2 separate regions of the Homo sapiens genome follow, and region 2 is linked to region 1. Evidence: fine-mapped expression QTL. A gene starts in region 1. The other region holds a variant in brackets. All regions are shown on one strand. Distances are from middle to middle. Region 1 holds the start of ZSCAN32 (zinc finger and SCAN domain containing 32). Region 2 overlaps LOC105371059 (a long non-coding RNA gene).

The links.
Region 2: its variant is fine-mapped to the expression of ZSCAN32 in monocytes after R848 (Quach 2016, PIP 0.95).

Annotation. Positions count from the first base shown.
Region 1 is chr16:3,399,058-3,404,057 of GRCh38, forward strand. ZSCAN32 (zinc finger and SCAN domain containing 32) reads right to left here and starts at 1,947. Exons shown (of 7, transcript NM_001284527.2): 1 at 1,888-1,947. It overlaps ZNF174 (zinc finger protein 174), which reads left to right and starts at 2,158. Exons shown (of 3, transcript NM_003450.3): 1 at 2,158-3,349. The coding sequence starts at 2,948. LOC105371059 (a long non-coding RNA gene) reads left to right here. Exons shown (of 4, transcript XR_007064949.1): 3 at 1-469; 4 at 574-612. RefSeq lists silencers at 1,585-1,734, 2,285-2,504 and an enhancer at 1,708-2,207.
Region 2 is chr16:3,370,048-3,375,566 of GRCh38, forward strand. The region is part of intron 1 of LOC105371059 (a long non-coding RNA gene); the gene reads left to right. It also overlaps the pseudogene MTND1P8 and the pseudogene MTRNR2L4. Among named protein-coding and RNA genes, the nearest start is that of OR2C1, 17 kb to the left of the region's middle. The variant C/CAAA (reference allele first, on the strand shown) is at 3,222.

The DNA.
Region 1 (5,000 bases):
TAAAAATACAAAAAAATTAGCTGGGCATGGTGGCACGCACCTGTAGTCGCAGCTACTCGGGAGGCTGAGGCAGGAGAATCGCTTGAACCCGGGAGGCGGAGGTTGCAGTGAGCTGTGATCACGCCATTGCACTCCAGCCTGGGCAACAAGAGCGAGACTGTCTCAAAAAAAGAAAAAGTCCCTCTCATTGGTTCTGGTGGGGATATTAATTACAATACCCACTTCCCCAGAAGTGGGCATATGACACACAGCTAGGCCTATCAAAATTCTTTTCTCAGATTTTACATGAGAGGTAGGGAAAGCTCTTCATTTTCTAGGAATTGGTAAATTGGGCAAATGTAAGATCAGAGTTGTCTCCAACTATGTCCCACTCTCTACTCCACTCTTCCATCACAGGAGTGAGCCTGTTTACAAGAGGACAATATACTCAAGTCTTGACAACATGTTTGGATCTCCAAGGCCAGTTTATGTAAGGCAATATTTTTTTAAGAGTTAATTTTAAAAATAGTTTTATATAATTTAAAATTAATAAATAACTTTTAAAAATAATTTTATTTGTTTTTTTATCTTTAGAGATGGAGTCTCACTCTGTTGCCCAGGCTGGTCTCAAACTCCTGAACTCAAGCAATCCTCCCACCTCAACCTCCCAAAGTGTTAGGATTACAAGTATAAGCCACCATGCCCGACCTTAAAAATAATTTTAAATAGAAGCTAACTTTTGTATTTTTTGTAGAGGTGGAGTTTCACTATGTTGCCCAGGCTGGTCTCAAACTCCTGTGCTCAAGTGATCCTCCCACCTTGGCCTCCCAAAGTGCTGGGATTACAGGTGTGAGCCACTGCACCCGCGAAGGCAGTCTTTTTTAATGAGTTTGTGTTGGTTTTTATCTACTTAAAACACAGATTAAAGCAGATCGTAATTTACATTTTCTCCAGGGGCTGATACACCCTCACCATGTGGTATTAAAATGGATCCAGCATGCACAACAAGATGAATATACTCAGGACTACTGAGCTGTACACTTAAAAATGGTTATGATGGTAAATGTTTTTTAAAAATTAAAGAAATTTTTTTATATTTTAAAAATGGATTTGGGTTCCCTTTTCTCAAGGAACTTGAACTGCCTTCACTTAAATTCTCTTTACATTTCAGTGCTTCTAGAGATAGAGAAATCAAGGGCATTATTATTGTTAGCACTGCTTTCTAGCCAAAAAGAAACTGAGAGCGATGAAGTATCTTGCCTAAAGCATCACACAGCACAGCTCCTAGGCAGCAAGGCCAGGACTAGAACCAGCACCCCTTGCCTTCATTATGTTCATCCTGTGCCTTACCTGGCTGAAGAAGAATTTAATAAAAGCTCTTCTAACTTCATGCAGAAGGCGGAACCTGCACCCTTCTTGACCCCTTTTGACCCCTTACCTCCCACTCATCGTTAAATTTTAAAATGCTGTTCTCTGAAAATTTTACTTCACTCTAGCGATGGCCCAAACACTCGGAAAAAAATGTAGCATGAGGATGGGGAGCCAGGTTGATAGGTTTTTCACTTAGTTAACTATTTATTGAGTACTCAGAACGCACTCGGTGCCAGGGCTAGGCACTGTGGATGAGTAGGGAGTGGGCGAGACAGGGACGAGATGAGCAGGGTCAAGGCCAGGGGGTCCCGGGGCGCCGGCGCTCAGGCTCGGGGTGATCCGCACGGTGGGAGCGGGGCACGGTGATCGCGGCGCGTCTGGGGACGCCCGGCCTGAGGGAGGCTGCCTGTCCCAAGGAGACGCCCATCGGGGCCGGACCCGAACGCCTCGGAGAAGACTCCCAGCGGGGAGGGGCTCCTCGGCCGTCGCAGGGCCCAGCGGCTAATCCCGCCGGCCGCAAGGAAGCGGAGAACTCACCGGACACCAGCACTCGCGACTCCACAAACTCCCTCAGCCTCCGGGCCGGAAGTCAGCGGCGCGATTCGCTCCGCCCATTACGCACGCCCCTGCGCAGGCCCGCAAGCCGAATTGCCGGACTGCAGCTCCCGGGATGCACTGCGACGGTATTGACAGGCGCAGCAACCAATAGACGGTAGAGAATGCCCTTGGCAGGAGGCGGGCCCTGTCAGTAGTTGTCCTCAGCAGCTAGTGGGCGTCTCCGCAGCGAGTGGCATCGGCCCCGCCCCCAGCCCGTGCTCGCCGGTGTCGGGTCCTAAGTCCCTCGGTCTTGGGTTCCCGGAGAGGTGAGTCGGCTGCAGGTGGGTGCGGGGCGCCGGGCTGTTCGGGGTACCGGTGTCGCAGTCGCCAGTCCGAGCTCACACCGGGCGTGGAGTTCAGCTGCGCATCGGGTTGCGGCAGCTTCGCCAGGCCTGGGGCTGGCTGGGCCGCGGGGCCGCCCTGGAGGCCGGAGCCACTGGGCCTGCGGCGCCTCGGCAGCGAGCAGCCGCTTTGCTCGCGTGCAGGAGGCTGTTCGCTACCTCACACCCCCGGCTGGCGCTGTGGCCTCGCTTAGCTCTACCGTTTAGCACCCGGCGACATGCACCCGGTCGGTTTCCGCCAGGATGCGGGAGAGTTGGGGCAAGCTACCTGCGACAGCTTGAACTTTTCCTAGGGATTCCGCTCCACCCGCCGGTTAGAGCGTATTGCTCATTAAATCCGAGACCTGTGTGCTTGCTACTGAAATAAAAGAAGTATTTTTTCCCCAGAGTCCTTTTAGGACGTTATGACTTTTCTCCTTTGCAAGACTGCAAAAAACTGACAAGAAGACAAAACTCTTCCCACTCCCAGGGACCGCGTTGTCTTGAGTTTGGCTAGTAAAGGCTAGCAAGTGAGGCTTTGTCTCTGCATCCCGTTCCCCCTAACATCCTCAGAGAACCTTCGTTTCTAGAATCTTTCTAGTATTCAGAGACTTCTCCAGGGTCATGATCCCAAAGGCTTAACCCGTTTACAAGGAGAGAGTTGTCTCCTGACGCCCAAAATGGCAGCTAAAATGGAGATAACTTTAAGCTCCAACACTGAAGCTTCCTCCAAGCAAGAGAGACACATAATAGCCAAACTAGAAGAGAAACGGGGCCCTCCTCTGCAAAAAAACTGCCCAGATCCTGAGCTCTGCCGCCAGAGCTTCAGACGCTTTTGTTATCAAGAGGTGTCTGGACCCCAAGAGGCTCTCTCCCAGCTCCGACAGCTCTGCCGTCAGTGGTTGCAACCCGAGCTGCACACCAAGGAGCAGATTTTGGAGCTTCTGGTGATGGAGCAGTTCCTGACCATCCTGCCCCCGGAGATCCAGGCTCGGGTCAGGCATCGATGTCCAATGAGCAGCAAGGAGATTGTGACCCTCGTGGAAGATTTTCACAGAGCATCCAAGAAACCAAAGCAGTGGGTAAGGAGGGTCCTCTCCCATCATCCTGGGGATTTCTTTTTCTTTTCTTTTTTTTTTTTTTTCTTTTTTTGAGACGGAATCTTGCTCTTTCGCCCAGGCCCGAGTGCAGTGGCGCTATCTCGGCTCACTGCAAGCTCCGCCTCCCGGGTTCACGCCATTCTCCTGCCTCAGCCTCCCGAGTAGCTGGGACTACAGGCGCCCGCCACCGCGCCCGGCTAATTTTTTGTATTTTTAGTAGAGACAGGGTTTCACCGTGTTAGCCAGGATGGTCTCGATCTCCTGACCTCGTGATCCGCCCGCCTCGGCCTCCCAAAGTGCTGGGACTACAGGTGTGAGCCACCGTGCCCGGCCGATTTCTTTTTCATCTGGGTAATGTTTGGTATCTGGATCTCTCCCTATTTAAGTCTCAGAAGTGGACTGGATGGCTTCAGAAGTTGCTTCCAGCCTCTATCTGGGAACCTATCCTGAGTTATTAACAGGTTTTTAGAAAATCCAACTACTGATACCCAGTGAGGCAACAGAGGACCAAGGTTCTTACCATTCCTTTATGCACCTTGTGTCACCAGAAGTAATTGTAAGGTTCTTAAATCCCTTCTGTCAGCTCTTCCCCCACCCAACTTAGTTTTCCTACTAGCAGAATTCTTAGCAGATAGGGTCACCCTGTTGGGTAGCAGTTGGACTTTGGGGAACTTCATTTCATTGGAAGTTCTAGCTTATTGTCTTTCCAGTGTTTAGCTTATAGTCTTTTTTTTTTTTTTTTTTTTTTTTTTTTTTTTTTTTTGAGATGGAGTCTTGCTGTGTTTCCCAAGCTGGAGTGCAGTGGTGCCATTTCAGCCCACTGCAACCTCTGCACCCCAGGTTCAAGCGATTCTCAGGTCTCAGCCTCCTGAGTAGCTGGGTTTACAGGTGCCTGCCACCACGCCCAGCTAATTTTTGTACTTTTTAGTAGAGAGGGGGTTTCACTATGTTGGCCAGGCTAGTCTCGAACTCCTGACCTCAAGTGATCCTCCCGCCTTGGCCTCTCAAAGTGCTGGGATTACAGGCGTGAGCCACCACACCTGGCCTAGCTTTTTGTCTTTGATTTTTTTTTTTTTTTTTGAGACTGGGTCTCACTGTGTTGCTGAGGCTGGAGGGCAGTGGCACGATCTCAGCTCGCTGCAACCTCCATGTCCAGCTCAAGTGTTCCTCACACCTCAGCCTCTCAAGTAGCTGGGACTGCAGGTACATGCCACCATGCGTGGCTAATTTTTGTACTTTTGTAGAGACAGGGTTTCTCCACATTGCCCAGGCTGGTCTTGAACTCTTCTTGGGCCCAGGCGATCCGCCCGTCTTGACCTCCCAAAGTGCTGGGATTACAGGAGTGAGCCACACAATGCCTGACTAGCTTATTGTCTTTGGATCAGGAAGTTACAGTTCAACTGGCCAGCGTTGCCATTGCTTGCCACTCCCCGCCCCGAAGTCAGACCCCAGTCAGGACCTAGGCAAGAAGCAAACGGCAGGTACTTCGGAAAATAGAACTTGTTAGGGAATGAAGGTGGGGTGGTCCTCTTAGACCCCTACTACTACTGGGATCTCCTTACCAGGAAAGCCTTTGGCAGAACAATGTATTAGGTAAGAAGGACTTTTAACAGCCCCTCACCATACTGCTTCC
Region 2 (5,519 bases), 29 kb before region 1:
ATATAAGTTGGTCATAGCGGAATTGGAGATATGCTGTTTGAATTCATAAAAACAGGGTGGTTAAAGAAAGGTCTTGGTAATGAAATTTGTGGTATAGAGTTCTGGTGAATATATAGTGTGTAGTGCTCCTAGAAAAATGGTAATAGTTAAGTCATTTATTACGATAATATTCATATATTCTGCTATAAAGAAGAGGGCAAATGAACCTGTGGCATATTCGATGTTAAAGCCTGAGACTGACTCTGATTCTCCTTCTGTTAGTTCAAAAGGGGCTCGGTTTGTTTCTGCTAGTGTGGAGATAAATCATATTATGGCTAGGGGTTATGATGGTAGAAGCAGTCAGAGGAATTCTTGCGTTGTGATAAATGCATGTAAGTTAAATGAGCCACTTATTAGTAGAACTGATAAAAGGATAATGGCTAGAGTGACTTGATATGAAATTGTCTGGGCTACAGCTTGTAATGTGCCGATTAGTGTGTAATTTGAATTAGATGCTCATCCTGATCATAGGATAGAGTAGATGGCTAGGCTTGATGTGGCTAGTATAAATAGGAGGCCTATATTAAAATTAATTAGAGCATCTGGTATGCGGAGGGGAGTTCACAAGAGGAGAGCGATCAAAACAGCTAGGGTTGGAGCAGTAGTATAAAAGGTAATAGTAGACGCTGAGGGACGTAAGGGTTCTTTGACGAAAAGTTTTATTGCATCAGCGAATGGTTGAAGCAGTCCATGGGGACCTACAATGTTAGGTCCTTTGCGTAATTGTATGTAGCCTAAGAGTTTTCATTCAATGAGTGTAAGGAATACTATAGCGATTAAAGTGGTAATAATAAGTAGGAGAAGATTGATTATAGGCATATTGTTAAGAAGAGGAGTTGAACCTCTGATTTTAAAGTTTTAAGTCTTAGGTAATTGCCGGGGTCTGCCATCTTAAACACTGTTTAAGATGGTAGAGTGTGTGATGATTTGTTAGATTGAGACAGCATCATTTATGGTGGCAAGGGTGCTTTGTGAAATGGGCCCTGCTTCTCTTGTCCTTTTGTACTAGGAGAAATGTTAAATAGTTAGAAACCGACCTGGATTACTCCGATCTGAACTGAGATCACATGGGACTTTAATAGTTGAAAAAACGAACCCTTAATAGCGGCTACACTATTAGGATGTCCTGATCCAGCATTGAAGCTGTAAACCCTGTTGTTGATATGGACCCTAGAATAGGATTGTGCCGTTATCCCTAGGATAACTTATTCCGTTGATCAAATTATTGGGTCAGTGTGTGTTAACTTGCTTAGACTAGTGCGGTCTTAGTTTAGGTAGTTTGGAGGTTGAATTATGCTCTGAAATAAAAGAAAATTTTTATTTTTTTTGTTTTTTATTTATTTATTTTTTAAGACAGAGTCTGGCTCTGTTGCCAGGCTGGAGTGCAGTGGCACGATCTTGGCTCACTGCTATCTCCACCTCCCGGGTTAAAGCCATTCTCCTGCCTCAGTCTCCTGAGTAGCTGGGATTACAGGCACATACCACCACACCCAGCTAATTTTTGTATTTTTAGTAGAGACGGGATTTCACCATATTGGCCGGGATGGTCTCGATCTCCTGACCTCGTGATCTGCCTGTCTCAGCCTCCCAAAGTGCTGGGATTATAGGCGTGAGCCACCACGCCGGGCACCCCAACCAAAATTTTTAATGCAAAGATAGTAGGCTAGGGCCTGTAGGCTTTTTTTGAGTTTCTATTTGCATTAATGAATTAAAGCTCTATAGAGTCTTCTCATCTTATTTGTTTATACTGCCTCTTCATGGATAGGTCAATTTCACTGACTGAAAGTAAGAGACAGCTGAACCCTTGTGTGGCCATTCATACAAGTCCCTATTTAGGGAACAAGTGATTATGCTACCTTTACAATGTCAGGATACCGCAGCTGTTGAACATATGTCACTGGGCAGGCGGTGCCTCTAATACTGGTGAAGCCAGAGGTGATGTTTTTGGTAAACAGGTGGGGTAAGATTTCCCGAGTTCCTTATACTTTTTGTAATCTTTCCTTAGAGCATACCTGTGTTGGATTAATGGTATAAATAATAGGGTATTTATTCTTTATTAATATTAGGCTGTTAACTATCAGTGGATTCTGGTTTGATATAAGCTTATGCAATGGAGAATGTCTTCGTGTTACTAATATTAACATTATTGCTTCTATTAAGTAATAGATTAGTCTAATGTAATGTTAGGAGTTCAATAGAGTGATTAGGATTTAAAATAATTGGATGTTGAGCTTGAAAGCTTTCTTTTTTTCTTTTTTCTTTTTTTTTTGAGACGGAGTTTCGCTTTTGTTGTCCAGGCTGGAGTGCAGTGACGCAATCTTGGCTCACTGCAACCTCCGAGTCCCGGGTTCAAGCGATTCTCCTGCCTCAGTCTCCCGAGTAGCTGGGATCACAGGCATGCACCACCATGCCTGGCTAATTTTGTATTTTTAGTAGAGATGGAGTTTCTCCATGTTGGTCAGGCTGGTCTCAATCTGCTGACCTCAGATGATCTGCCCACCTCGGTCTCCCAAAGTGCTGGGATTACAGGTGTGAGCCACCGCACCTGGCCTTGAATGCTTTCTTAATCGGTAGCTGCTTTTGGGCCAACTACGGTGGTAATATTTTTTACTCTCTGGAGGAAGGTTATTTCCTAGGGTCTAAACAGCTGTCCCAAAGAGGGACAATATTAAGGATGGGAGATTTGTCTCCTGTAAAATGCATCCTTTCTCCTCTGCAGGTTATGTTCACCTGGTCCTACTCTGAATGAGAATCTGCTGGTTTTTGAAAGGCCTGCTCTGTGATGGAGGGATTGCAATGCCCAGCAAGGTGTGGGCACTTTAGTTAAGTCCTCAGTGTCTGAGTCACACCTCTCCCCCAGACAGATCAATACAGCTGGCTTTCTGCTCGAGAGACGGCCAGAGGCCAGGCGCAGTGGCTCACGCCTGTAATCCCAGCACTTTGGGAGGCCCAGGCAGGTGGATCACGAGGTCAGGAGTTTGAGACCAGCCTGACCAACATGGTGAAACCCCGTCTCTACTGAAAATACAAAAATTAGCCGGGTGTGGGTGGCGCGTGCCTGTAATCCTAGCTACTCAGGAGACTGAGGCAGGAGAATCGCTTGAATCCGGGAGGCGGAGGTTGCAGTGAGCCGAGATCGCACCGCTATACTCCAGCCTGGGTGACAGAGTGAGACTCCATCT[C/CAAA]AAAAAAAAAAAAAAAAAAAAGAGAGAGAGGGAGGGGGCCAAAGTGGGACCAGCTTGGGGCTGGGTACTGTGCTGCACGGTGTGACAGCTGTGGATCTGGGGTGGGAGCAGCCACAGACCTTCCTGCACTGCCCTAAGCCAACAGGACCCTGATGTGCTCTGTGTCCCTGGCAGCTGTGGTGCTGAGACCTTGACTGTCGAGGGGGTTTGGTTTACAGATTATTTTGTCACCGAGGTAATGAGCATAGTATCCAATAGGTAGTTTTCCAGTCCTCACCCTCCTCCCACTCTCTACCCTCTAGTAGGCCCCAGTGTCTGCTGTTCCCCTCTTTGTATCCATGTGTACTTCTAAGCTCCCGGTTACAAGTGAGAACACGTGTTATTTGGGTTTCTCTTCCATTGTTAATTCGCTTAAAATAATGGCCTCCAGCTCCATCCATGTTGGTGCAAAGGACATGATTTAATTCTTTTTTATGGTGGTGTAGTATCCCATGGTGTATATGTATGACATTTTGTTTATCTACTTCACCATTGATGGGCATCTAGATTGATTCCATGTCTTTGCTATTGTGAATAGCGCTACAATGAACATATGTGTGCGTGTGTCTTTTTGGTAGAACGATTATTCCTTTGGCTGTATGCCCAGTAATGGGATTGCTGGGTTGAATGGTAGCTCTAAGTTCTTTGAGAAATCTCCAAACTGATTTCCACAGTGGCTGAACTAATGTACATTCCCACCAGCAGTGTATAAGCATTCCCTTTTCTCTGCATCCTCACCAGCATCTGTCATTTTTTGACATTTTAGTAATAGCCATTCTGACTGCTTTGAGATGGTATCTCATGGGGATTTTGATTTGCATTTCTCTTATGATTAGTGATGAGTATTTTTTCACGTGCTTCTTGGCCACATGAATATCTGACTGCTCTTCTAATTCTGTTCTGCTCAGCTGCACTTGCCCCGCTCCACGTTCAAGTGTTTAGCTCTGGCTTTCAGGAATCTCTGTTACCATACCTCTGCTCTCTGAGCCCATACAGGGATTTCTGAAGGGATGAGGTAGGGTGTCAGTGATAGGGTTTTTTTTTCTCTGGGATTATGGGGGGAGTTGCCAAGCTCCTATTAGAGCCAATGAAGCCCCCTTCCTCAGGGACTTTCCCAAGAGAAGAGCCAGAGCTCATACTCAGGACCATTCAGACCATAAGGCCTTATAGAGGAACCCAGTGACTCCAAGAAATGGTGAGACACAAAAGAGTCTCAGGCTGGAAGGGGAAGAATCCAGGGATGAGAGCTCATCAGTGCCTGTGACATCATAGACATGACCGTACAGTTCTGTCATGACCAGAATTGGGGGAAAGAAGCAGGTGAAATGGTGGTGCAGCTGCCAGACTGAGACAGCTCAGTTCCTTATCTAAGCTTTGTCATGTCCTCCAGTCCTCCCTTCAGAAAGGCCCATATTCCATGATAGCCCCTAGAAGGGTCATGTCTTGGTGTTTTACACAGAACTCTTTGGGTTTCTCCATTAACTTAGCTACTGTGCCCAGCAGCCACCAGAGGCCCCAGAAGAAGAAACCAGCAGGGGATCTGGCTGCCTGGGTTCCTCGGGGGTGGTCTCACCATCAGGGGTGGGTGAGACCACCACAGCCACACTGTGAAAGTTTCAGAGTTTTCACTACTTACAGATCCTCAAGATAGGCAGGGTGACCAGAGAGAGGCAGACAGCAGTCCTCAGTTCCAGGTCTTATGTAGTGACAGCAGCTGCACACTTGTGGGAGAGGACTTCTGTTAAAGGCTTATTTGGGGGTAGGATGTCCTAATTTCATGGAATTACTTTCCACTGAGTCCTTCAACCACTTCTAGCACCAAAGGTAGTTGAGCAGTTTGGCATGAGGCTGGAGTTAAAACAGGGCTCTGCAGAGCAACTTCTTGTCTATCTTGGTCAGCCCTTGCCAGGCAACAATCAACTGTGGTTTCTTCATTACTCCTCAGACACTTGGGACATTCATGGTGACCTATTGGCACCCAAGGAAGAGAACCTGATTTTAATTTGGACTGATAAGCAAGTTTTCTGAACAGGTTTATAGGGATTAGTTTAGTCTGGACAGAGTGAGCCGGAATCAAAAGATACTGTTAATACCAGAGGACTAGAAGATCCCATGTGGAGATGTCAGGTGGCTTAGCCATTGAGAAAGAATGACAGTAGATCTGAAATGGTCCAGAGCCCAGATATTCAACAAAGGCTAAGAGCCAAGGTGAGAGGGTAAAGGGAAGGTGTGAACGAACGGGTGAAGCCCCACTGTGTG